Linked DNA regions of Homo sapiens. The protein of the gene in region 1 purifies or fractionates together with the protein of each later gene. This does not show direct contact. Each region holds a gene or a part of one and is shown on either strand. Other genes may lie near its edges.

The links. Proteins that work in one complex are often made in the same cells at the same time.
Region 2: the proteins of MTA2 (region 1) and CHD3 purify together in Homo sapiens (affinity purification with mass spectrometry; 8 studies listed by BioGRID and IntAct, with this or other methods). This does not show direct contact.
Region 3: the proteins of MTA2 (region 1) and KPNA2 purify together in Homo sapiens (affinity purification with mass spectrometry; 4 studies listed by BioGRID and IntAct, with this or other methods). This does not show direct contact.

Annotation. Positions count from the first base shown.
Region 1 is NC_000011.10:62,592,046-62,599,937, forward strand, and holds the end of MTA2 (metastasis-associated protein MTA2), read right to left. Parts: intron 6,595-7,892; coding exon 6,477-6,594; intron 6,346-6,476; coding exon 6,282-6,345; intron 6,097-6,281; coding exon 5,979-6,096; intron 5,668-5,978; coding exon 5,565-5,667; intron 5,371-5,564; coding exon 5,271-5,370; intron 4,781-5,270; coding exon 4,592-4,780; intron 4,488-4,591; coding exon 4,413-4,487; intron 4,293-4,412; coding exon 4,234-4,292; intron 4,063-4,233; coding exon 3,965-4,062; intron 3,847-3,964; coding exon 3,707-3,846; intron 3,448-3,706; coding exon 3,219-3,447; intron 3,026-3,218; coding exon 2,936-3,025; intron 2,590-2,935; coding exon 2,471-2,589; intron 2,363-2,470; coding exon 2,214-2,362; intron 1,996-2,213; coding exon 1,830-1,995; 3' UTR 1,169-1,829; downstream 1-1,168. UniProt on the Homo sapiens protein: May function as a transcriptional coregulator. Acts as a component of the histone deacetylase NuRD complex which participates in the remodeling of chromatin.
Region 2 is NC_000017.11:7,891,398-7,899,680, forward strand, and holds part of CHD3 (chromodomain-helicase-DNA-binding protein 3), read left to right. Parts: intron 1-1,888; coding exon 1,889-2,172; intron 2,173-2,407; coding exon 2,408-2,538; intron 2,539-2,717; coding exon 2,718-2,868; intron 2,869-3,017; coding exon 3,018-3,211; intron 3,212-3,519; coding exon 3,520-3,753; intron 3,754-3,941; coding exon 3,942-4,145; intron 4,146-5,685; coding exon 5,686-5,897; intron 5,898-6,573; coding exon 6,574-6,705; intron 6,706-7,098; coding exon 7,099-7,198; intron 7,199-7,613; coding exon 7,614-7,805; intron 7,806-7,945; coding exon 7,946-8,146; intron 8,147-8,283.
Region 3 is NC_000017.11:68,038,344-68,046,626, forward strand, and holds part of KPNA2 (importin subunit alpha-1), read left to right. Parts: intron 1-2,334; coding exon 2,335-2,423; intron 2,424-3,741; coding exon 3,742-4,010; intron 4,011-4,561; coding exon 4,562-4,656; intron 4,657-4,756; coding exon 4,757-5,020; intron 5,021-5,494; coding exon 5,495-5,728; intron 5,729-5,977; coding exon 5,978-6,160; intron 6,161-7,428; coding exon 7,429-7,578; intron 7,579-8,160; coding exon 8,161-8,253; 3' UTR 8,254-8,283.

The DNA of each region.
Region 1 (7,892 bases):
GCCCTGGTTGGGGAGCTCTGCCACCACCGGGCACCTTCCGGACTCCACGAGGTCCTGGAGCCAGGCCCATTCCTTCCGCAGTAGTGGGCTGCGTGGTGTACGCCGGAGGCGCCAGAGCTACTGGCGCACCTCAGAGCAGTGCGACAAGACAAAACCGAGTGCCAGTAACTGAGTTTAGACACTGGAGGGGGCGAATGCTGTCAACCCCCTCCTGGTATAATTGTCAGTTCATCCCAACGCCGCCGAGGTGTAGGCTCAGGACAGGGAGGGACTACGGGGAGCTGGGGATGCCCTAGGGACAGGGACCATAACGAGGTGGAGAGAACTATCAGATGGGCTCAGCAGCTTGTGCTGTGGTTATCAGCCCACAGCTTTGAATGGCGCAAAGAGCAGTGGACCTAAGGCAGACACCAAGGTCTTTGACCTTGAACAAGTCACAACTGTTGAGGCCGTTTCCCATCTCTAAAGGAAGTGCCCAAGGAGCACACAGCAGGCTGAACTTCTTGTTCTCTATCCTAAGGTGTTCCTTCTAATGGGCCCAGCTCAGGCATCTAATCTCAGTGTCCCAAACCTTTAAGGCAGGAAACAGTGCTACAGTGGATCGGGATATCATCGAGACTGGCCTTGAGGATCCTGAAGCAGCAGGCTGTACACATACACCCAGAGGTGCTAGGGTGGTTCAGTGGTAGAATTCTCGTCTGCCAAATACACCACACAGCTAGGTGAGGGGATCCTCCTATAACCCCACCACCACCCCCAAGGGGGTATACATGTTACCCTGGCTGCTAGCAACTTCCAGAATTCCTTAAACAAAAGGGAGAGGGGAGTAAGAGGTGGGAAACAGAGGAAGAAACACCCCCATTCCCCTTTCCTATGGAGGCCACCAGTCATCCAGAAAGCTCATCTCAACTCCTTTGAATGAATCTGGGCCAAGATGGTTCTTGAGCTCCAGCACCACTGGGAGCTGGGGAGCAGTTTGGGTCCCACAAGAAGCCTAGCTGGAGCAAGCCGCCTGGGTCCAGGCTGCCTATCTCATAAAGCTGTTCCCAGGGCAAGAACCATCTGTACCTCCTTTGTTGTCCTTTGTCCTTTATTTTCCCTCTCAAAGACACCCCCAACACACACACAACACACACCCATGGCAAAGAACAGCTGAGCCAGGAGAAGCTGAAGAAAACAGCTTTTTATTTGTTACTATAAGAACCAATTACAGAATCCGAGGTTAAAAAAACGGACAAAAGATCTTTATTTCTGAGAACTGGCGTACAAAAGGCAGAGGGGGAGGGGAGGGAAGGAAAGAGCGAGCGTGGCCTGGGGTTGATGCCAGCTTAGGGGCCTCAAACTCCAATTAGGAAAGTCCGGACACCGGACAGAAAGAGAAACCCCCAATTAGGAAAAAAAAAAAAAAAAAAAAAAAAAAAGACATGGCAGTGCACGCCCCCCTCCCCCAACCAGGTACCACCACCTGTTATCTGTTTACTCTTCCCCTCCCCATCCCCTTTCACAAAGGGAGGCAAAATTTTTAAAAAATTAAAAAACCCTCCCCCCAAAACTGTCCAAGACATCTGTGGGTCCTACCCCCCAAAACAGGCTAGGTTCCCACATGGGCCAAGTTCCTGCAGTCTGTCCTCCATCGGCAAGCATGGAGGCATGAGACAAGTCTCGAGGTGGTAACACCAGAGGGCGCCCAACCCCTCCAGGGACACACACTCACTTGCTCTCTTCCTTAATTCACTCCTCACTCCCTTCGACACGAAAGGGAAGGGAGGTTTGGGTGCCCTGGGCATCCACCCTCTACCTCTCAGCCCACCTCCCTTCCCCACAGGTGCTCAGTCCTCCAGGACAATAGGCTCATTGGTGCTGGCAGGATGTGAGGGTGCAGGTAGAGGGACAGGGGGCCGCACTGCAATCAGCGTTGGCTTCACCTTCAGGGGCAAGTTGGGTCGGCGAGCAGCTCGCCGCATTTCCAGATGGGTCAGAGCCTTCCGTAGGGCCCTGGCCAGAAAGAGCAAGTGGGAAACAGAAAAGGCTTAGAGAACATTAAGACCTCCAGGTGAAGCCCCACACTGCAATTATGCCTTCTGGCCCATTCTTTTCTGGCATCCCCACCCTGCATCCACAACTTTCCTGGAGCTCTTGCTCTGATACTCCTACTCCCCACACTCACCAGCCTGGACTGTCCCTCTCAGCCCCTCCCATGGTAGACGCCTTACCTGGTATCCTTTGTGGCCACAAACACCACAGGATTGGGGGCATCAGCTGGGTTTAGTTTCTGACGCTTGGCTGCTGGCTGTGAGCTTGAACGAATCCCTGAAGCCAGAGGCCTTCCATTGGCAGAGAAAGGAACCCCTGCCCCTGCCATCTGGAAAAGGGGTAGGATGGCACAATGAGGGAAGGGACCCTCTCAGACTCCTATGAGAGACAAAAGCCCACCCAACTCAATCTGGCCCACCCCTTTCTGTCAACTCACAGTCTCATAGGCCCGTTTCACCATAATGCCCCCCAGTCCCCGGTTCTGGGACAGCTGGTTTCTGTTGATCGGTGTCTTGGTACCCCGAGGTGTTTTTGGTTTCAGGGGTGCCTGGGCCACTGGAAAAAAACAGAAAACTTTCGCACCTTTTCTTCCCACGCAGTTCCCCTTTGTTACTTCCATCTCTCTTCCCTGGACCAGCAGTTTACCTGGGCATCCCCAAAAGTAGCAATGGGGGAATGTTCTGGCAAGCTATCACTAGTATTTCAAATATCAGTATGACCTTATCAAATCAGTACAGTAATACTGAATAGTTTACAAAAAAAATTATTAAACAACAAAAGTACAGTTTGTTAGACTAAATCTCTGAGGACACTATGAGGAAGAAAAAAAGCAAGGGGAGAGATGTCAGACAGGGAAAGGACTGGGAGCCTGATGCCAACCTCACTGGTCCCCATCCCATACCCAGATCTTTGACGATAGTTGCCAGGGGCAGCCGCACCAGAGGGTGAATCTTCAATGGAGTCTTGGCGGCCTTAGGAAGTCGAATGGAGCCTGGAGAACAAAGAAGAAAGCTTCTGAAGGGCTTCACCATTCAGGTCTCCTCTAAGGCCAGAAGCCAACTCTAATCTTAAAAAAATTATCTGTGGCCTACTATCCCTCCTGTTATTAGACATCCAGAGAAACAACGGTCTCTGGGCAGAGCAATCCGAAACCCACCACCAGTCCCACCACTCCCTGCCCTTACACTCTGCTTTGATGGCATTGGCATTGATAGGAGCATAAGGCCGTCGGGCGGCCCTCCTTGGCTGTAATAGGTCCCTGCACATGCGTCTGGCAAGACGGGTCAGCTTTGTGGTCTGAAGCAGGAAAGTTTGTCTGTTCTTAGCCAGTAGCTTGGCCCTGTTGGCGCTGGTTGTGTAAGGAGAGAGACTTTGAGCTTCAGGTCTGGATAAATGACCCCTTGAGTGTGGCTCCTAGAAGAAGAGCATAGGAAAGAGAGAGAGCAGAAATCAGCACTGAGGCTCCCTTCTTTCTTCCATTCCCTGCAGGGGACAATTTATTCCTGTCTAATCTCTTTACTGACCTCTTGGCCTATGTGTCTCCCCAACCAGCATCAAGCACCCCGTCCATCAAACCATCACCATATAAAGAGTTGAATATTCTGGCCTTCACCTAAGCTCACCATCAATATGCTTACTGCTCTCCCCTGCTTTTCTTCCCACTGATCCTTACCGTGGTGCCCCGAGTGGCCCCCTCAAGCTGAGTTGGGGTCTTCAGTCCCCCATACTTCTTCCAGTAGATCCAACAGGAAGCACAGAGGCGGCACTGCATGTTAGGTGGGCCCCAGGCATACCACTGAGCAGACTGTGTGGCTGTAGAGTACGGAGAGGAGGGGGACAGGGAAGAAGCATACTACCTAAGCCCCTCAGATTCTTGAGCCACAGCAGGCCTTCCACCCATCCCCACCATCCCAGTGCCCCCGTAACTCACTGTGGCAACTCTCACAAGTCAGGCCCTTCTGAAATCCAGCCCCATTCATGCCAGGTTTTGAACCCACAGAAATGATCTGGTTAGGGTTTGGCTTAGTGCTAACGGGGAAGGCGAGGAGAAGGGAAAAAAACAAGAAACTGGTCAAGGAAAAGAATCAATTTCCACTCTCAGTGTGCCCCTACCTCCTGCCCACCCCCAATCACTGAGGAAGGCACAAGTTAGGGGAAGGGAAGGAAAACACTCTGGTCTCCCCTACCCACCACACTTACTAGGTGGGAATGTAGACCTGTTTCAGTTTGCTGTCTGCTTCAGCAGCTTTCAACCTTTTCTGTAAGAAGGTAAAAAGAAAGAGAAGGATCAGAGCCTCATAGCAGGGAGAATGTCATCAACTTCAAAGGCAGAGGTCAGCAGGTAGCCTATGGTCCACCCTCCCCAGCCCAGATAATACCTGCTGAATATACCGGTCTGTGGTTTTCCACATGTAATAAAACTGGACTATGCTGGCAAGTGACTTCCAGGGTAGCTAAGGGGGGCAGAGGGAGGAAGAATGAGCTGGCATCTGGCCCCAGGTCCTGGTTCCCTCACCTGTCATCTCTCCCACTTCTCCTCCTAGTGCCATCCACTTACAAAATCCTGGCGAATATCATTGAAGTCCTTCCCATACTTCTCTAGGGCCTCCTCAAATAGCATGGCCTCTGAGGCTGACCATTCCTCCATCTCATCCCGACACAGCACCGGGCCTCCCTGGGGTACCAGGGTCGACATGGCCTTAGCCAGGTCGTAGCCGTTCCTTTGCAAGGTATCCATGGCGTGAAACTATGGGGAAGATGGAGAGCAACTGAGGACCTGAAACTTTTGGCACCACTCCCTTCCTGCTCCTTAAAACACTCCCACTCCCGGCCGGGCGCGGTGGCTCACACCCATAATCCCAGCACTTTGGGAAGCGGAGGCGGGCAGATCACGAGGTCAGGAGATCGAGATCATCCTGGCTAAAACGGTGAAACCCCGTCTCTACTAAAAATACAAAAAATTAGCCAGGCGTGGTGGCGGGTGCCTGTAGTCCCAGCTATTCGGGAGGCTGAGGCAGGAGAGTGGTGTGAACCCGGGAGGCGGAGCTTGCAGTGAGCTGAGATTGCGCCACTGCACTCCAGCCTGGGCGACAGAGCAAGACTCCTCTCAAAACAAAACAAAACAAACAAAAAAAAAACACTCCCACTCCCTCAGAGATACCCTCCTCTTCTGTTCCCAGGCTCTGCAAGTCCCCAGAAAACCCAGCCTGCCCAACTACCCACCAACTTCTGCTCACCAGAGTGATATCTCGGGAGGCAGCAGCTGCACTCATGTGCAAGCTTGGCTGCCGAATGGAGCTGCTACAATCTAGGGCTCTTGCAAAGGTTCCCACAGCTCTAAGGGAGAAATTGAGAAGTCAAAAGCGAAAGAAAAGTCAAAAGCCCAAGTGGGCTGGGAAATTAAGCCAAAGGAGAAAGAAGGAAAACATCCATGGCAATGAAAGAAATAAAGTCCATCTCTAAGAACCATGGGACTCAGAACAATGTCCACACCTCCCCCAGCCCATCTTCCCTATCCACCCACCCCTCACCGGGCCACCACAAGAAACTGGTCGATCTGCCGGTCTGTGAGAGGGTTGTCTGGGTCCCAGACCTTCATCTCCATCTTCTGCTGGTTCCGATTATCAGATTCTCCTGGGGAAAAGAACAATGGCATCAACAGGGAGAGGGCAGGGGGGAACAGTTGGTGTCTTTTCATTCACAATAGCACCTCCTCCTTCTCTTCTTCTGCTTGGATTCTATCAACTCTCCGACTTCTCTTCCCAACTGTTCCCATTTTCCCTTTTCAGGTTCCTACAGGCCCATTCTGTCAGGGTCATGGCAGAGAGCCCTGCAGACAGTGCACTGCACAACCCCAGGTGACGCCATTCACAGAGACTATAATGTTAAAGTGCCCCTTGGAATTAGACAACCTGGTAGCCGTACAGTCTTGTCCTGTTGCTTACCCTCTACTAGGCGATCTGGGATCTCAGCTTGGTATTTGCAACCAACTCTAATCTCGCCCTGATCAGCGAGAAGTGTCTTCTGCACGGGGTCAAACACCAGTGAGTAAAAAAAGCAGTCCTGGAATTGGGGAGAGACAAGGTAAGCAAGGCAGCAATCCACATAGGCGGCGGGGAGGGAGGTGTATCTGAGTTTCCATGACCGGCAGTCTGGCAACCCTGTACCTCATCATTGTGCTCCTTTCCCCCTCTCTTTTGCGGGCAATACCCATTCCCCTCGCTCTTCTCTCAACATCTCTTTCTCACCTCCTTTTCCAGGTACTGGCTCAAGATATCTGTCTCATTCAAGAGGGTCACACTGCATTTCCCCCTATAGGAGAGAGATTGGAAAACCCCGGTGAGCCCCACTCTCCCTCCCCACAGCATCTCTCAATACCACCTCCTTCTCTCCATCTTCTACGTAAGTGCACGCAGGCTATGCTGGCCCCAGTTGTCCTGTACCGTATGTGGGTGGCTGGTAATGATTCAAATTGCCGAGAAAGAAAAAGTTCCCGGTGCTTCAGTTGATGGCGCTGCTGCTCAGACACCCCTGGCTGCTTTGATTCCTCTTCAAACTCCCCTGGGAGATTAAAGAGGAAGAAACCAAGTCAGAAATGGATCCAGCAAAACACCACCCTGGAAACTCTAACTCAGGGAAAATATTTCCTATCTTGGCTGTTTTTTTCTCACATTTCCCAGGCGTCTGCCTTCTATACCCTTATCCCACCAGCTTTCCTTCTTAGCTCTATGCCCCATCATAGATGCTCCCAACTCTATCAGTAATGCTTTTAGAGAAGAACTGCTGAGAGTACGAAGAATGCTCTAGAAATACATCGCTACCCAGCTGCCAGTACTCAGACACCAAAGTCCACAACGGGCCAGCAAGAACATCACACTTGTCTCTTGCTTGCTAAACCAGCCTGAGGTCCAGGAACTCAAGATGAAAAAATATCACACAAGACTGTGTTTACCAGTTCTTTTCAATTTCAGGAGACTCTTTGCTCTAAAACATCACATGCAGCCCTAACTATCCCTCATTTTCTACTTGGCTAATAATAGTTCCTGGGGTTTCCAAGGACAACACCTCTCAAGCCAGTGCCAACACCTTCCTCCCCAAGGAGCTGCAGCTTGCCCTGAAACCTAGCGGAAGGGGTTAACCTGGCTAGGCGCCAACCAAAGTGGGAGGGAGCAGAAGAACCTCAGCCCCAGGCTCATTGGTGTATTGTTCCCAACCTCAGGGAGAAGGGGGGGGTTGTGCAGTAGGCTCCACCCCTCGCTTGTGTGCTCCGGAAACCCTGTGCTGAGGCAAGGGGGACCACACCCCCAACACCCCTTCTGATTGGACAAGGCCAAGGTCAGCCCCTGCCAGATGGGGCTGGAAACCCTAAAGGGCCAAGGAACTTGGTAAGCTGGGCTCCTCTTTAACCCCTTCTCACCCAGAGCAGTCTGAAAAAGGAAAATAATTTAGAAAGGTGGAACAAAAGGAAGGAAAAAGAAAACCAAAGCAGGAAAGGAAAAAGAAGCTAAGGAAAATATGTTTTTTAAAAAAAGAAGATGAGACCTTAAAGAGAATGAAGATAGGGCAAAATGAAAAGGGAAAGATGTAAAATGGAGGGGGGCGGGCGGGGAAATGGGCGAGGTGAGAAATTAAAAAGCGCAAGAAAACTTCCAGCCATCTTCTAACTTCCAGGTACTCTCATCACCTTGTGATTACAAAATAAGCCTGCTTCTCTGTTACGCAGGCTTCTCAGTACAATGTCTTCCTCTTCACGTTGACCTTCAGTCATCACCTACTGTCTCAATGTACCCCAAACTGCCCCCCTTTAGAAAACCATTGTTTCTCTAAAGCTCGTCCTCATACTCTAAATGTTATCATCT
Region 2 (8,283 bases), on another chromosome or scaffold:
TCTAGACTGGACCTGAGAGATACCATCAGTGTTCCTGAACTTCCTTAGCTCACTTAGCAGGTCCTGTGCCCCTTCCTTAGGCCCTGGTAATAATGGAGGGTCCACTGCTGGCAGTGGGACCTGAGCTTCAGTGGCTCCTGAAGAAAAGTAGAGAATAGTAGAGTAGAAAATAGCAGAGATGGGCCAGGTGCAGTGGCTCATGCCTGTAATCCAAGCACTTTGGGAGGCCAAGGCAGGTGGATCGCCTGAGGTCAGGAGTTCAGGACCAGCCCATCCAACATGGTGAAACCCCGTCTCTACTAAATACAAAAAAATTAGCTGGGCGTGGTGGCACATGCCTGTAATCCCAGCTACTCGGGAGGCTAAGGCAGGAGAATCGCTTGAACCCGGGAGGCAAAGGTTGTAGTGAGCCGAGATCACACCACTGCTATGCTCTAGCCTGGGCAACAAGCGAAACTCCGTCTCAAAAAAAAAAAAAGAAAAAATAGTGCCGATGTATTTTGTTTTGGGGAGAAGGCACTTTAACATATCAGTTCAGTGCTCTGGAGGCAGCTGCTGAGGTTCACATCTGGTTACATTTTGGGCAAGTGACTGAACTTCTTCAATCCTCAATTTCCTCTTCTATAAACGGGGAATAATAATATATACCTCATAGGAATCTGTGTGGGTTTGGTGGGATAATGAATGGAAAGCACAGTACCGTCAGTGCCTGGCTCCTAGGGAGCATTCAGTAACTGGTGACTGTCATTAGTAACGTTGTCTCACCTACCTTACTGCTGAACTTGGGGCTTTTCTCAGCACCATGGATCACCCGTGTCCGCACAAGAGTTGAGCACCCCACCCCAGAGCAGAACCAGCATGGTCTGACTCTTTCACACTCCGTCCTACGGAAGCCCATCTTCAGGGCCCATGGAACTTACTAGTAAAATGCAGAGAATCATAGCAACTCAAGAGTATTATTGTGAGGACAAGATAAGGTGGAATGTATGTGAAAGGGTTTTATGAACTGTAAAGTAGTATACAAAAGTAAAGCATTTTTGTTGATTTTATTTTAACCTTTTATGCTTTTAAGTTTTATTTCGCTGTTTTTTATTTCCCCTTTTTTTTTTTTTTTTTTTGAGATGGAATCTCACTCTGTCGCCAGGCTGGAGTGTAGTGGCGCAATCTTGGCTCACTGCAACCTCTGCCTCCCAGGTTCAAGCAATTTTTCTGCCTCAGCCTCCCGAGTAGCTGAGACTACAGGTGCGCACCACTACACCCAGCTAATTTTTGTATTTTTAGTAGAGACGGGGTTTCGCCATGTTGGCCAGGATGGTCTCCATCTCTTGACCTCGTGATCCTCCCACCTTGGCCTCCCAAAGTACTGGGATTACAGGCGTGAGCCACTGCGCCCAGCCTATTTCCCTTTTTTTAAAGACAGGGTCTCATTCTGTCACCCAGGCTGCACTGCAGTGGTGTGATCATAGCTCACTATATCCTCCAACTCCTGGGCTCAAGCCACCCTCCTGCCTCAGCCTCAGGTGCTGCCACACCCAGCTAATTATTTTTTTTTATTTTAATTTTTTGTAGAGACAGGATCTCACTTTGTTGCCCAGGCTTATCTCATAGCCCTGGGCTCAAGCAATCCTCCTGCTTCAGCCTGGAATTACAGGCATGAGCCACCGTGCCTGGCCTGTATTTCTTTTTTAATGCTTTTTTAAACCTGTTCTTTCCCCGCTTTTTTTAAACTTCTTTTTATTTATTTTTTTAAATGGCTGTTTTTCCTAATAGGACATATTCTCACCACCCAGGAATCCTAGCATGTACATAGATTTAATTGATGAGGGGAGATGGCAGTGTTCCCAGACCATCTGTGAAGGGTCCGAGTTTTCTGCTTCTATATTTACAGGCCCCTAATTGCTAAGAAGAATCCTAAGATCCCAATGTCTAAGATGATGACCATCCTTGGGGCCAAATGGAGAGAGTTCAGTGCCAACAACCCCTTCAAGGGGTCAGCAGCTGCTGTGGCGGCGGCAGCGGCAGCAGCAGCAGCAGCTGTAGCTGAGCAGGTGTCAGCTGCTGTCTCGTCGGCCACCCCCATAGCACCCTCCGGACCCCCCGCCCTTCCACCACCCCCTGCTGCTGATATCCAGCCCCCACCCATCCGAAGAGCCAAAACCAAAGAGGGCAAAGGTAGGGAACTCTCTTCCAACAACTGTCATCTCACCTTCCAAACTGCATGTCTTCACATTAGAGTCTGGAACTCTCGCCTTCCCAGCCCTGATTGCTGGAGGAGAGATGCTTTCCAGGAAGTGGGGCTTAGTGAAACCACAGCCCACAGAGGAATCCAGAGGCCCCTGTGACCTCCATAATTCCAGGATGTCATGACCTCTCCTTTTTCCTCTTCTCACCCCGACTCCTCATTCAGGTCCAGGCCATAAGAGGCGGAGTAAGAGCCCCCGAGTGCCTGATGGACGCAAGAAGCTTCGGGGAAAGAAAATGGCACCACTCAAAATAAAACTAGGGCTTCTGGGTGGCAAGAGGAAGAAAGGAGGCTCGGTGAGTGACCCGTCCCTGTCTACTAAACACCTGGGGGCCAAGGATCCAGAGACAGGGATCCGTGAGGGCCAAGGATCCAGAGACAGGGATCCGTGAGGGATGGCGGAACAGGAAGCCAAAGGCCTGGGGAGGGCGTAGAATGAAGTCTGCCTCACTGACGGCCACGGGGCTATGGGCAGTATGTTTTTCAGAGCGACGAAGGTCCTGAACCAGAGGCTGAGGAATCAGACCTGGACAGTGGCAGTGTCCACAGTGCCTCAGGCCGGCCTGATGGCCCTGTCCGCACCAAGAAACTAAAGAGAGGCCGGCCAGGAAGGAAGAAGAAGAAGGGTAAGGAGTGTTGACTGTGTGTGATCCTGTCAGTGGGCCGTCCTCTCATTCTTATTTTCAATTTTGACTTCTCTCTTCAACCCTTCTCCCTCTCTCTCTCCATCTCCCCCTGCCCTGCTTCCTTATCCCTCCACCGGGGTATATGACAGTCCTGGGCTGTCCTGCAGTGGCCGGGGAGGAGGAGGTTGATGGCTACGAGACGGATCACCAGGATTACTGTGAGGTGTGCCAGCAGGGTGGGGAAATTATTCTGTGTGACACCTGCCCTCGTGCCTACCACCTCGTCTGCCTTGATCCTGAGCTTGACCGGGCTCCAGAGGGCAAATGGAGCTGCCCTCACTGTGTGAGTACCTAATGCCAGCATCTGATGGCCCTGAGGAACCCACCCATCTCTTTCCCCCTTGGTTTCACTTACCCTCTTCCTGCCCCCAGATGGCTGGACTTCTTAGTAACAGATGTCCGAGTGTCTAGGATCCTAATGTATTCCTTTCTCCCACAATCAACATTTCTGAAACTGGAGTGTCCTTTTCCTTAGTTCCCACCAGTCTTCTCTGCACTTCTAGGATTCAGGTGTCCTGTCTTTGCCTGTATCTTCCAGTTTCATTCCTTAATTTCTTCCATCTGTCTGTGTGTCTATCCTTGGCCCCCTAGGAGAAGGAGGGGGTCCAGTGGGAGGCCAAGGAGGAAGAAGAAGAATACGAAGAGGAGGGAGAGGAAGAAGGGGAGAAGGAGGAGGAGGATGATCACATGGAGTACTGCCGCGTATGCAAGGACGGCGGGGAGCTCCTGTGCTGTGACGCGTGCATCTCCTCCTACCACATTCATTGTCTAAACCCTCCCCTGCCTGACATTCCCAATGGTGAATGGCTGTGTCCCCGATGCACAGTGAGTGGAAACATCTCCCCTCTGTATTTACTGTCAGGCCTGATCCCTTCCCCCATCCCTGGGGCCCACATGTCCAGCTTTTCATTTCTCTGCACTCCCCCACCCTTGTGGGACCCCTATCTTCTCATCTAACAATGGGTTCTTTCTGCCTCTTTCTTTCCTCCTCCTTGTACGTGTCCATCCCAAAGTGCCCCGTGCTGAAGGGTCGAGTGCAGAAGATCCTACATTGGCGGTGGGGGGAGCCACCTGTAGCAGTGCCAGCCCCTCAACAGGCAGATGGAAATCCAGATGTCCCACCCCCCCGTCCTCTTCAAGGCAGATCAGAGCGAGAGTTCTTTGTCAAGTGGGTAGGACTATCCTACTGGCACTGCTCCTGGGCCAAGGAGCTTCAGGTACTAGGACCTTTTCTTTCCCTCTCCCCCATGACCTCATTTCCTGCCATCCTCTCCCTCTCTTACTCCTCTGTTTGTTGGGTTCCCATACTCTTTGTTTTCTCTCATTTCAGGCCTGTGGCCTTCATACCCTACTTGCTTAGTTTCCATATGTGGTTCTTTTGGTCTACAGTCCTCTTTCTCTCAGTCTCCGTTAGCTTCCTTCCCTCAGATATAGCATAGCCTTTCCTAACTTCATGTCCTTCCTTATCTGTCTTTTTCCATGTTTTATAATATTCCTGGCTGGGCATGGTGGCTCACACCTATAATCCTAGCACTTTGGGAGGCCAAGGCAGGAGGATTGCTTGAGACCAGCCTGGGCAACATAGTGAAACCCCATCTCTGTTTAAAAAAAAATTCTCGGCTGGGTGTGGTGGCTCACGCCTGTAATCCCAGTACTTTGGGAGGCCGAGGTGGGCGGATCACCTGAGGTCAGGAGATCGAGACTATCCTGGCTAACATGGTGAAACCCCATCTCTACTAAAAATACAAAAAAATTAGCTGGGCGTGGTGGCAGGCACCTGTAGTCCCAGCTACTCAGGAGGCTGAGACAGGAGAATGGCGTGAACCCGGGAGGCGGAGCTTGCAGTGAGCCAAGATCGTGTCCCTGCACTTCAGCCTGGGCGACAGAGCGACACTCTATCTCAAAAAAAAAAAAAAAAAAAAAAAAATTCTCAATGTTTCTAATCCCATTCCCTATCTCTTGCTTGTAAGAGCCCCACCCAGGCCTTGTCTTCTGAAACTGTTGCATCTGTTTCATTTTATTTATTCTCCGTCTTGGCTTTGACTCATTTATCTCTAATCCATCCTTTTTCTTTTTTTTTCTATTTTTTTTTTTTTTTAGATGGAGTTTCGCTCTTGTTGCCTAGGCTGGAGTGCAGTGGCACGATCTTGGCTTACTGCAACCTCTGCCTCCTGGGTTCAAGCGATTCTCCTGCCTCAGCCACTCAAGTAGCTGGGATTACAGGCATGCGCCACCACGCTTGGCTAATTTTGTATTTTTAGTAGAGACGGGGTTTCTCCATGTTGATCAGGCTGGTCTCGAACTCCCAACCTCAGGTGATCCACCTGCCTCTGCCTCCCAAAGTGCTGGGACGCGCCTGTTATTCTCTTATTGCCCCGGCTGGAGTGCAGTGGTGTGATCTTGGCTCGCTGCAACCTCCGCCTCATGCATTCAAGCGATTCTCCTGCCTCAGCCTCCTGAGTATCTGGGATTACAGGCGTGCGCCACCACACCTGGCTAATTTCTGTATTTTTAGTAGAGACGGGGTTTCGCCATGTTGGCCAGGCTGGTCTTGAACTCCTGACCTCAGGTGATCCACCCGCCTGAGCCTCCTAAAGCACTGGGATTACAGGCATGAGCCACCGTGCCTGGGCCAATCCATCCTTTTTCATAGCTCCCTTTCCCTGTCCCATTCCTCCTGCCGGCCTCTTCCCGGTTCCTTGTTGTCCTCTGTGAGTGTCAGGACTATCTCTTTCCCTTTTTTCTGTGCCCTGCTAGCTGGAAATCTTCCATTTGGTTATGTATCGAAACTACCAGCGGAAGAATGACATGGATGAGCCCCCACCCCTGGACTATGGCTCCGGCGAGGATGATGGGAAGAGCGACAAGCGTAAAGTGAAAGACCCGCACTATGCTGAGATGGAGGAGAAGTACTATCGTTTTGGCATCAAGCCAGAGTGGATGACCGTCCACCGCATCATCAACCACAGGTGAATCCTCGGTCCCTGGGAAGTCAGACCTGGTATATGACATTATTCTTACCATGGTGATGGCCCCATGTTAGTATTTGCTGATTAACCAGGTAATTGATCTAACCTTGATAACCTCTGCTGTAGCTCCAGCCTTTCTGGCCTTGTTTCCTCCAGGGGAACGGGAGAAAACAGGAGGAAAATCCGGCCAGGCAGTGCCTCTTTTGTCCTTTGCCTCCTGTCATCTCCAGTGGCATAAGACATAGCACATGAGTCTGGGGATGAGGGCATGAAAGCAAAACATGAGAGACATAATTCATCCAGACCAGTGTTTTGAATGTTTCTTCTTCATAGTACTTATTACTGCCTAAACTTAATGGTATGTATTTAGTTATTTCAATGCTGCCTTCCCCACGAGACTCTGAGTTCCATGAGGAAAATACTTAGTGATTAGGTGAACAAATGATAAGGAGGGATCTCCAGGAATGTTTTGTGATAGCTGATTTTTAGGATACCATCCTGAGAAGGTTAGGCTGCTAGGTCAACTATTCCAATCTCCCTTCCAGCAGCTCACTGTTGACGGTTGGGTGACAAATTTTGTGTGTTTGCTGATAATTGCGTTTCTCAGGCCTTCTTTCTGTTTGTGATCTGTGCAATATTTTCCTCCTGCTCCTCCCCATGGCCTCCTGCCCCACAGTGTGGATAAAAAGGGGAATTACCACTATCTAGTAAAATGGAGGGACTTACCATATGACCAGTCCACGTGGGAGGAAGATGAAATGAATATCCCTGAATACGAAGAACATAAGCAAAGCTACTGGAGACACCGGTGAGGGAATGAGCTTGTGGATTCAAGGGATTCTGACGATGAGGGCATGAAAGCCAAAACTCCAGCATAAAATGAGGGTACAGTAGGGCCTGATTCAACCTGGAGTTCAGGGCAATGGCCACCTGAGCTGGGTTGTTTGAGATAGGCTTGCTAAAGAGGTAGTGTAAGGAACAGAAACAAGATCTGGCTGAGTAGTGGAGAAGAGGATGTTCAAGAGTGGGGAGGGCTGGCTCTTGAGGTGAAATCCAAAGGGCAAGGGTAAAGAGCCTGGGAAAAAGGAAATATGGGAAAATCTAGGTCATGGACAGTGGGAAGTAGGTCTGGAATGGGTTCAGAAAAGAAAGCGTAGGACTCCCAAGGATGAGGCCTCATTCAGACCCACTCTTTTTCCAGAGAACTAATTATGGGGGAAGACCCTGCCCAGCCCCGCAAGTATAAGAAGAAGAAGAAGGAGCTACAGGGTGATGGGCCTCCCAGTTCTCCCACTAATGATGTGAGTCCTCTCAGTTGTCATTTCTTGTTTCTGGAGTGATGGTGATCGAAGATTTTCCAAGGGCTACTGATGGAACTTCCCAGAGATTCAGTAACCTCTGTGAACAGTAGCTCTTCCTTCAGCATCCAGTCTTGCCCCAAGAGTGGCTAAGAATTTTGGCCTGAAAGGGCAGGAGCCACTAGAGATAGCCCACTGGTGGCTCTGTCACCAGCTGGCCCTTCCCCATGGTGCTGCTGGATATTGTCTTAAGGAATGAGGGGGAGGGGCTGAAGACTAGATGTGAGAACTTTTGTAAACTCAGGCCATAGTAGAGGGAATTGTAATCCAACTTGGTATCCATGCCAGGGAGGAAGAGACTAAGACTGGAGGAGCCGCCGACTATTTCCTTGAGCTTTCTGACTTCTTGTCTCTATAGCCTACCGTGAAATATGAGACTCAGCCACGGTTTATCACAGCCACTGGAGGCACCCTGCACATGTATCAGTTGGAAGGGCTGAACTGGCTACGCTTCTCCTGGGCCCAGGGCACTGACACCATTCTAGCTGATGAGATGGGGCTAGGCAAGACCATACAAACCATCGTCTTCCTCTACTCACTCTACAAGGAGGTGCTGGATTCTAGGACCTTGAAGGGGACCGCCTGGACTGGGGAAGTGGGGAGGGGGAAGATAAAGGGGTGTAGCTGGCAGAGGACTAGGGTATACGGCCTCTAGCCTAGACTTATGCTGCCCCCATTCTTGACTCCCAGGGCCACACAAAAGGTCCCTTCCTGGTGAGTGCCCCACTCTCTACCATCATTAACTGGGAGCGGGAGTTCCAGATGTGGGCACCCAAATTCTATGTGGTGACATACACGGGTGACAAGGACAGCCGGGCCATCATTCGTGAGAATGAATTCTCCTTTGAGGACAATGCCATCAAAGGGGGCAAGAAAGCTTTTAAGATGAAGGTAAGACCCTCTACCTCATATCCTCTGAGACCCTCAAAGCTGTCACTTCTTTTTCTCAGCCAGGAATTCAGTTTCTCTATTCCCCTCCTCACCTTTCTCCTCTTCCTCCACCTGTCCTCCTGTCTCTGCACTACCAT
Region 3 (8,283 bases), on another chromosome or scaffold:
GATATGCCTGCCTTGGTCTCCAGAAGTGCTGGGATTACAAGCGTGAGCCACCAGGCCCTTCCCGTTTTTGGTTTATTTCTGCCTTTTTTGGTATTCTCTATGTTTTTGTATTTGTCACCAGCTTTGTTCAGGACTTTCCTTCTGAAATATTTACAGTAGCCTCCTAATTTATCATATCCTTCTTTATGCCATATACTATTTTCCTGAAATTTTTCCTGAAGTACTGCTTTAGACCTGTGTTTTCGCTCCTTAAAATCCATACTCCAAATTGCTTGAACCTGGGAGGTGGAGGTTGCAGTGAGCCAAGATCATGCCATTGCACTCCAGCCTGTGCAACAAGAGTGAAACTCCGTCTCAAGGAAAAAAATAAAAATAAAATAAATCCATACTCCAGCTGGGCATGGTGGTTCATGCCTGTAATTCCAACACTTTGGGAAGCTGAAATGGGAGGATCACTGGAGGCCAGGAGTTTGAGCCCAGCCTAGGCAACATAGGAAGACCTCGTCTCTATAAAAAGTAAAGTTAGCTGGGTGTGGTGGCGCCGGCCTTTAGTCCTAGGTATTCAGGGGGCTGAGACAGAAGAATCACTTGAGCCCGGGATTTTGAGGCTGCAGTGAGCTGTGATTGCACCACTGCACCCCATGCTGGGTGACAGTGAGACCCTGTCTCTAAGAAATCCCTACTCTATGAAGGCCTTCCATAAAGTAGACTTAACTTAGATTTTCAAATTTATCTTTCATCTGGGCCCTTTCCTACATGTTTTTCTCACAATATGCTTCCTTTTTTTTTTGTTTTGAGACAAAACCTTGGTTTGTTGCCCAGGCTGGAGTGCAGTGGTACGATCTTGGCTGACTGCAGCCTCCGTCTCCTGGGTTCAAGTGACTCTCCTGCCTCAGCCTCCCAAGTAGCTGGGATCACAGGGGATCACCACGATGTCTAGCTAATTTTTGCATTTTTAGTAGACACGGGGATTCACCGTGTTTCCCAGTCTGGTCTCGAACTCCTGACCTCAGGTGATCCACCCGCCTCGGCCTCCCAAAGTGCTGGGATTACAGGCGCGAGCCACTTCGCCCAGCCAAACATAAACCATTTATATTTGCAGCAACACTTAACCGTGGAAATATGTAGATTATAAAATTAGATATGAAAATCCTCGGCCGGGTGTGGTGGCTCACACCTGTAATCCCATTACTTTGGGAGGCCGAGGCAGGTGGATCACCTGAGGTCGGGAGTTTGAGACCAGCCTGACCAACATGGAGAAACTCCATCTCTACTAAAAATACAAAATTAGCTGGGCATCGTGGCGCATGCCTGTAATCCCAGCTACTCAGGAGGCTGTGGCAGGAGAATCGCTTGAACCCGGGAGGTGGAGGCGGTGGTGAGCCGAGATCACGCCATTGCACTCCAGCCTGGGCAAGAAGAGCAAAACTCTGTCTCCAAAAAAAAAAGTCGGGCATGGTAGCTCATGCCTGTAATTCCAGCACTTTGGGAGGCTGAGGCAGGTGGATCACCTGAGGTTGGCAGTTCGAGACCAGCCTGACCAACATGGAGAAACCCCGTCTCTACTAAAAATACAAAAAAAAAAAATTAGCCAGGCATGGTGGCGCATGCCTATAATCTCAGGTACTTGGGAGGCTGAGGCAGGAGAATCGCTTGAACCCAGGAGGCGGAGGTGGTGGTGAGCCAAGATCATGCCACTGCACTCCAGCCTGGGGATTGAGTGAAACTCCGTCTCAAAAAAAAAAAGAAAAGAAAATCCTCAGAACGTTGCCTATGACTTCATGTCTTTCTCCCTCAAAGTATATCTGAATGCAAGTGATTGAGACTAACGTAGAAATAATCTTCAGTCTGCTCTGATTCTTGATTTTTGAGACAAGGTCTTGTATGGCGACAGGCAAACACCACCATGCCTGGATATTTTTTTTTTTTTTTTTTTTTTGTTGGGAGGTCTCACTGTGTTGCTCAGGCTGGTCTCACCTGAGCTCAAGCCATCCTCCCTCCTGAGCCTCCCAAAGTGCTAGGCTTACAGGTGTGAGCCACCATGCCTGTCCTTCTCGTTCATTTTTTAAAATTGTTCAAAGCTGCCTTTTTTAGCGACAAAACACTTGGATACTCCATAACTTGAGACTCCAGTGAGTCCATGACAACAAGTTTGGAAACTGTTCTACATATAAAATAATGAATATTTAACAGGCAAAATTAAATGTAGGGCTAAATATTTAGTAGCTGGCTATAAGCCTAACGATGTTTACACTTGCCTTCACAAGTAAGTGTGGATTTTATTGTTTGTATTTAATCTTAATGATAATGTGCAAACTTTCACTTTTCTTCTAGGGCACTGTAAATTGGTCTGTTGATGACATTGTCAAAGGCATAAATAGCAGCAATGTGGAAAATCAGCTCCAAGCTACTCAAGCTGCCAGGTAAGTCTTGTCTGCGATAGCATGGGTAGCCTAAGAAATTTGTGTTTTTAGATTTTTTTTTGGGGGGTGGGGCAGGAAGGGACAGACAGATAGTACAAGGAAAGATTAGGCCAGCCAGCCATAAGCCAAATAGTATTTTTTATTTATTAATTTTTTTGAGAGGGGAGGCCTTGCTATTTTGCCCAGGCTGGCCTGGAATGCCTGGGTTCAAGCAGTCCTCTGACCTCAGCCTCCTGAAGTGCTGGGATCACAGGTGTGTGCCATTGCACCTGCCCATAAAGTTTTTACCAAAGTAATGTTTCAAGTCACTGGCAGGGGAAGGAAGAAATAAATAGTAAGTGGGATTGAGACATGCATTTAGAATGATAGATCCATTTAGGAGATAAGTATAATTTGACCTTTACCTCCCACTATACGTGGATATTTATGATATAATAGAAAGGATTAATAAGTTCTATAGCTTGACAGTGTGCAGAAGAAAAATTTCAATGGTAAATTATCATTAAAAAGTTCTAGGCTGGGTGCTGTGGCTCATTCCTGTAATCCCAGCACTTTGGGAGGCCAAGGGGTCGGTTACTTGAGCCCAGGAGTTTGAGACCAGCCTGGGCAACATGGTGAGAGCCAGTTTCTACAAAAGAAATTATTAGCTGGGTGTGGTGGCACATGCCTGTAATCTCACGTGTTTGGGAGGCTCAGGCACAATAATCACTTGAACCCAGCAGGCGGAGGTTGCAGTGAGCTGAGATCTTGCCACTGCATTCCAGCATGGCGACAGAGCAAGACTCTGTCTCAAAAAATAAATAAATAAAATAACTTGGGTGTGGCGGTGCACACTTGTCGTCCCAGCTACTAAGGAGGCTGAGGTGGGAGGATCACTTGAGCCCAGGAGGTCGAGGCTGCAGTGAGCTGTGATCGTGGCACTGCACTCTAGCCTGAGTGGAGTGAGATCCTATTTCAAAAAAACAAAATGTGCTTAACCACAACTATCAGAACAAATTCAGTGAGAGTATAACCCTGTCAGAATGTGAAAAGTTTTTTTAAAAAGTGACAAGATCTGGAGTAGATTTCTGCAGGGATGGAAAGGAGGGTAATCTACATTAATTTCTGGAAAAATGGTAGTTAATTATACCGCATACATAGCACCATACAAGTAATCTGTTCAGCTTCTCTTAGGTTCCAGAATGTCTCAGCATTTAGTGATTTACTTAAAAGGTTGTCTGAAGTTCTAAACTCTTGAATTGCATTTTATATTGGTTTTTACACAAACTCCTTTTGTTAATCACTGTCAACTTTTATTTCTCTTTTTGTTCCCCTTTAGGAAACTACTTTCCAGAGAAAAACAGCCCCCCATAGACAACATAATCCGGGCTGGTTTGATTCCGAAATTTGTGTCCTTCTTGGGCAGAACTGATTGTAGTCCCATTCAGTTTGAATCTGCTTGGGCACTCACTAACATTGCTTCTGGGACATCAGAACAAACCAAGGCTGTGGTAGATGGAGGTGCCATCCCAGCATTCATTTCTCTGTTGGCATCTCCCCATGCTCACATCAGTGAACAAGCTGTCTGGGCTCTAGGAAACATTGCAGGTACTTGGACTTGAAGTTCTTTTGACTGAATGTATCTAATCGTAATTAGTTGGAAGAAAGGCCTTGTTATAAGTAATAGTGACTTTGTCAAGTTTTGAGCTTGCTTTCAAGCCCTTATTAGGAATGAAAGTGTCGTCTTTACAAAGGCAGCAGAGGGCCATCTAAGTAAGTTTGGGAGTTTTTGCTGGTGCATTCAGTCACTGAAAATTGATGGTGTTGGACAAGGTAATAAAATTAATCTTGCCTCGGCCGGGCATGGTGGCTCACGCCTGTAATCCCAGCACTTTGGGAGGCAGAGGCGGGTGGATCATGAGGTCAGGAGATTGAGACCATCCTGGCTAACACAGTGAAACCCCACCTCTACTAAAAATACAAAAAATTAGCCGGGCGTGGCGGCGGGCGCCTGAGGCTGAGGCAGGAGAATGGCTTGAACCCAGGAGGCGGAGCTTGCAGTGAGCCGAGATCGCGCCACTGCACTCCAGCCTGGGCGACAGAGAGAAACTCCGTCTCAAAAAAAAAAAAAAAAAAATTAATCTTGCCTTTTTTTTCAGGTGATGGCTCAGTGTTCCGAGACTTGGTTATTAAGTACGGTGCAGTTGACCCACTGTTGGCTCTCCTTGCAGTTCCTGATATGTCATCTTTAGCAGTAAGTTACTAACATGAGTAAAGTTACTCACTTCTTCATTCTAATTTCCCCCATCTTCTCAAAAGACAGAACCTCTCATTGCCTATTTTTTTTCCCCCAGTGTGGCTACTTACGTAATCTTACCTGGACACTTTCTAATCTTTGCCGCAACAAGAATCCTGCACCCCCGATAGATGCTGTTGAGCAGATTCTTCCTACCTTAGTTCGGCTCCTGCATCATGATGATCCAGAAGTATTAGCAGATACCTGCTGGGCTATTTCCTACCTTACTGATGGTCCAAATGAACGAATTGGCATGGTGGTGAAAACAGGAGTTGTGCCCCAACTTGTGAAGCTTCTAGGAGCTTCTGAATTGCCAATTGTGGTAAGTTATTTACTTGTAGATTAGGACATAAGTATAAGAAGCATGATCAGGGCTGGGCGTGGTAGTGGTGGCTCACACCTGTGTAATCCCAGCACTTTGGGAGACCAAGGCAGGTGGATCACCTGAGGTCAGGAGTTCGAGACCAGCCTGGCCAACATTGTGAAAGCCCATCTCTACTAAAAATACAAAGAAATTATCTGGACATGGTGGCACGTGTCTGTAATCTCAACTACTCGGGAGGCTAAGGCAGGAGAATTGCTTGAATCTGGGAGGCAGAGGCTGCAGTGACCCGAAATCGTGCCATTATACTCCAGTCTCTCAAAAAAAAAAAAAAAAGCATAATCAGTTGATAGTAATATTGAAATATTGCCTATTTCAGGCCATGATGGGCCTCTTGTTAAAACTTTTAGGGTATAGAATTTCTAAAGTGCTGGGGAAAAAATAACCAGCATCAACATATTTTTTTTTTTTCAGACTCCTGCCCTAAGAGCCATAGGGAATATTGTCACTGGTACAGATGAACAGACTCAGGTTGTGATTGATGCAGGAGCACTCGCCGTCTTTCCCAGCCTGCTCACCAACCCCAAAACTAACATTCAGAAGGAAGCTACGTGGACAATGTCAAACATCACAGCCGGCCGCCAGGACCAGATACAGCAAGTTGTGAATCATGGATTAGTCCCATTCCTTGTCAGTGTTCTCTCTAAGGTAACGAAGTCTTAGGATTTAATCAAGTCATTTTTAGTATTTATAGAAAGCTGTGCTTGATAAGCTTCTTCACGTGCAAGAATCTTGGGTTCTACTAGGAGTCCTTTGCTGAACAATACCCAGTAACCCCTTTTACTTAAGGTTGGATAGAACCTTGGTACTTTCAGTCATTGTTTTTGTGAAAAAGTACTCTTGGAATCTTATTTGTGCAACTGTTCTGAAATAAAACCATTTCCTTATGTTTAATAGGCAGATTTTAAGACACAAAAGGAAGCTGTGTGGGCCGTGACCAACTATACCAGTGGTGGAACAGTTGAACAGATTGTGTACCTTGTTCACTGTGGCATAATAGAACCGTTGATGAACCTCTTAACTGCAAAAGATACCAAGATTATTCTGGTTATCCTGGATGCCATTTCAAATATCTTTCAGGTAAGTCCTATCAAGGTGGCTTTGTTTGAATTTGGACTTGATAATAATCAGTTTACTATTTAGACTTGGGGGAGGGCAGCTGTAAGTTTACTCACTAGTAAGCCACAGAATCAGAAAGCCTGTTTATGTGGCCACCCCTTTGATTAAAAATGAGGCAGGCATTATAAAAGATACAAAAGAGACGACAAGTGGATGGTGTGACCTGAATCGGAGTCAGGCGCTTATGTGGACTCATCACACCTGTTTACTTGGTTGATTTAATTTCCCAATTTCATACCGATTTTTGGTGACATTAAATTTGAATGACTTGGCCAGGCACGGTGGCTCATGCCTGTAATCACAGCACTTTGGAAGTCCGAGGTGGGTGGATCACCTGAGGTCAAGAGTTCGAGACCAGCCTGGCCAACATGGCGAAACCCTGTCTCTGCTAAAAATGCAAGAATTAGCCATGTGTGGTGGTGGGCGCCTATAATCCCAGCTACTCAGAAGGCTGAGGCAGGAGAATCGCTTGAACCCGGGAAGCGGAAGTTGCAGTGAGCCAAGTTTGTGTTATTGCACTCCAGCTTGGGCAAGAGTGAAACTGTCTTAAAAAAAAAAAAAAAAAAAGTTGAGCCTTCAATAATGGATGCTAGCGTATCTGTTACTGTGTATAAATAATTTGTCAGTATGTGGCCAGTATTTCTTCTTCCCCTCATCTAATCCCCTAAGTTATTTTGAAGCAAATCTGTTTTTTTCATCTATAGATATTTATGTATCTCTTTAAGGTTGAAAATTTAAAGGAAAACTAACCTACATACCATTCCATATGTCCAGTAAATCCTTAATACCAACACACATTCTGTTTGGGGACGTTTAGTTTAGCACTCCATAGGCCATCTTTGCCCTTAGACACCTTGACTACACCTTGTGATGACATAGGATGCTTTATGAAACAATACACCCCTGTTCCCATAGCAGACCAGTTGAACTGGAATGTAGTGTTGTTTTAAAAGTTGCCCGCATGATTTTGATACATAGAAAAGGTTGGGAGCTACTACTGATTGTAAGATCTTTGGCTCCAGTTGAAGTAGTGCTAAAAGCAGGTACAGATCCAATCACATTGAGTGTCAACAAAATATAAAATGGACATAAAACTATGATAGGCTTGATGAAGGAATTGTTAGGTGCTTATTTCTGCCTGACGTATCAATATTCAAATTATTGATGTTTTCTTCATTAAAATAAAACCAGAGTATATGCCAGTAAACTTGGATTTTTTTTTTTTTTAGGCTGCTGAGAAACTAGGTGAAACTGAGAAACTTAGTATAATGATTGAAGAATGTGGAGGCTTAGACAAAATTGAAGCTCTACAAAACCATGAAAATGAGTCTGTGTATAAGGCTTCGTTAAGCTTAATTGAGAAGTATTTCTCTGTAGAGGTGAGTAATGGATGGTAATATTAATAACAACTTGGAAACATAAAGTCAAGGCCATAAGCCTTTTTTTCCCTTTTAAAAATAAGTGTCATATCTTTGTTAAATATAGTAAAATATCAGTGTGCATGGGACATAATGTACTTATTTGCCCCTCTAGTTTGGCTTGATGGTAATAAAATCTTTTTAAACTGAGATTTTAAAAGCCACCAGATTAGTTTCAAATGAACAACCTTGAGAATCTTAGAATATCTTGAGGGTAAGTTAACGGGTGTCATTGTAGGAGGTGATAGAGAAGTAGGCCAAACTCATCACCATGCTCTGGGCCTAATACAGTCTTTTCCTATTGAAAAGTGACGGTTGGGGAAGAAAAAAATCTCGGCCTGTTTGTGTTACTGTAGTAGCTAGCATTTATGAATTGGCAAAGTTTCAGAGACCCTCCCTCCTCTATGTCAAATACTATAATATCATACAGGATTAAAGGTGTAATATGCAGATCAAGACCTAGAGATTAAATACAGACTTCAGGTAGGCTGCTGCTTGGAATACTTATATCATTTTTATACTTATTTTTTAATATATTTCCAGGAAGAGGAAGATCAAAACGTTGTACCAGAAACTACCTCTGAAGGCTACACTTTCCAAGTTCAGGATGGGGCTCCTGGGACCTTTAACTTTTAGATCATGTAGCTGAGACATAAATTTGTTGTG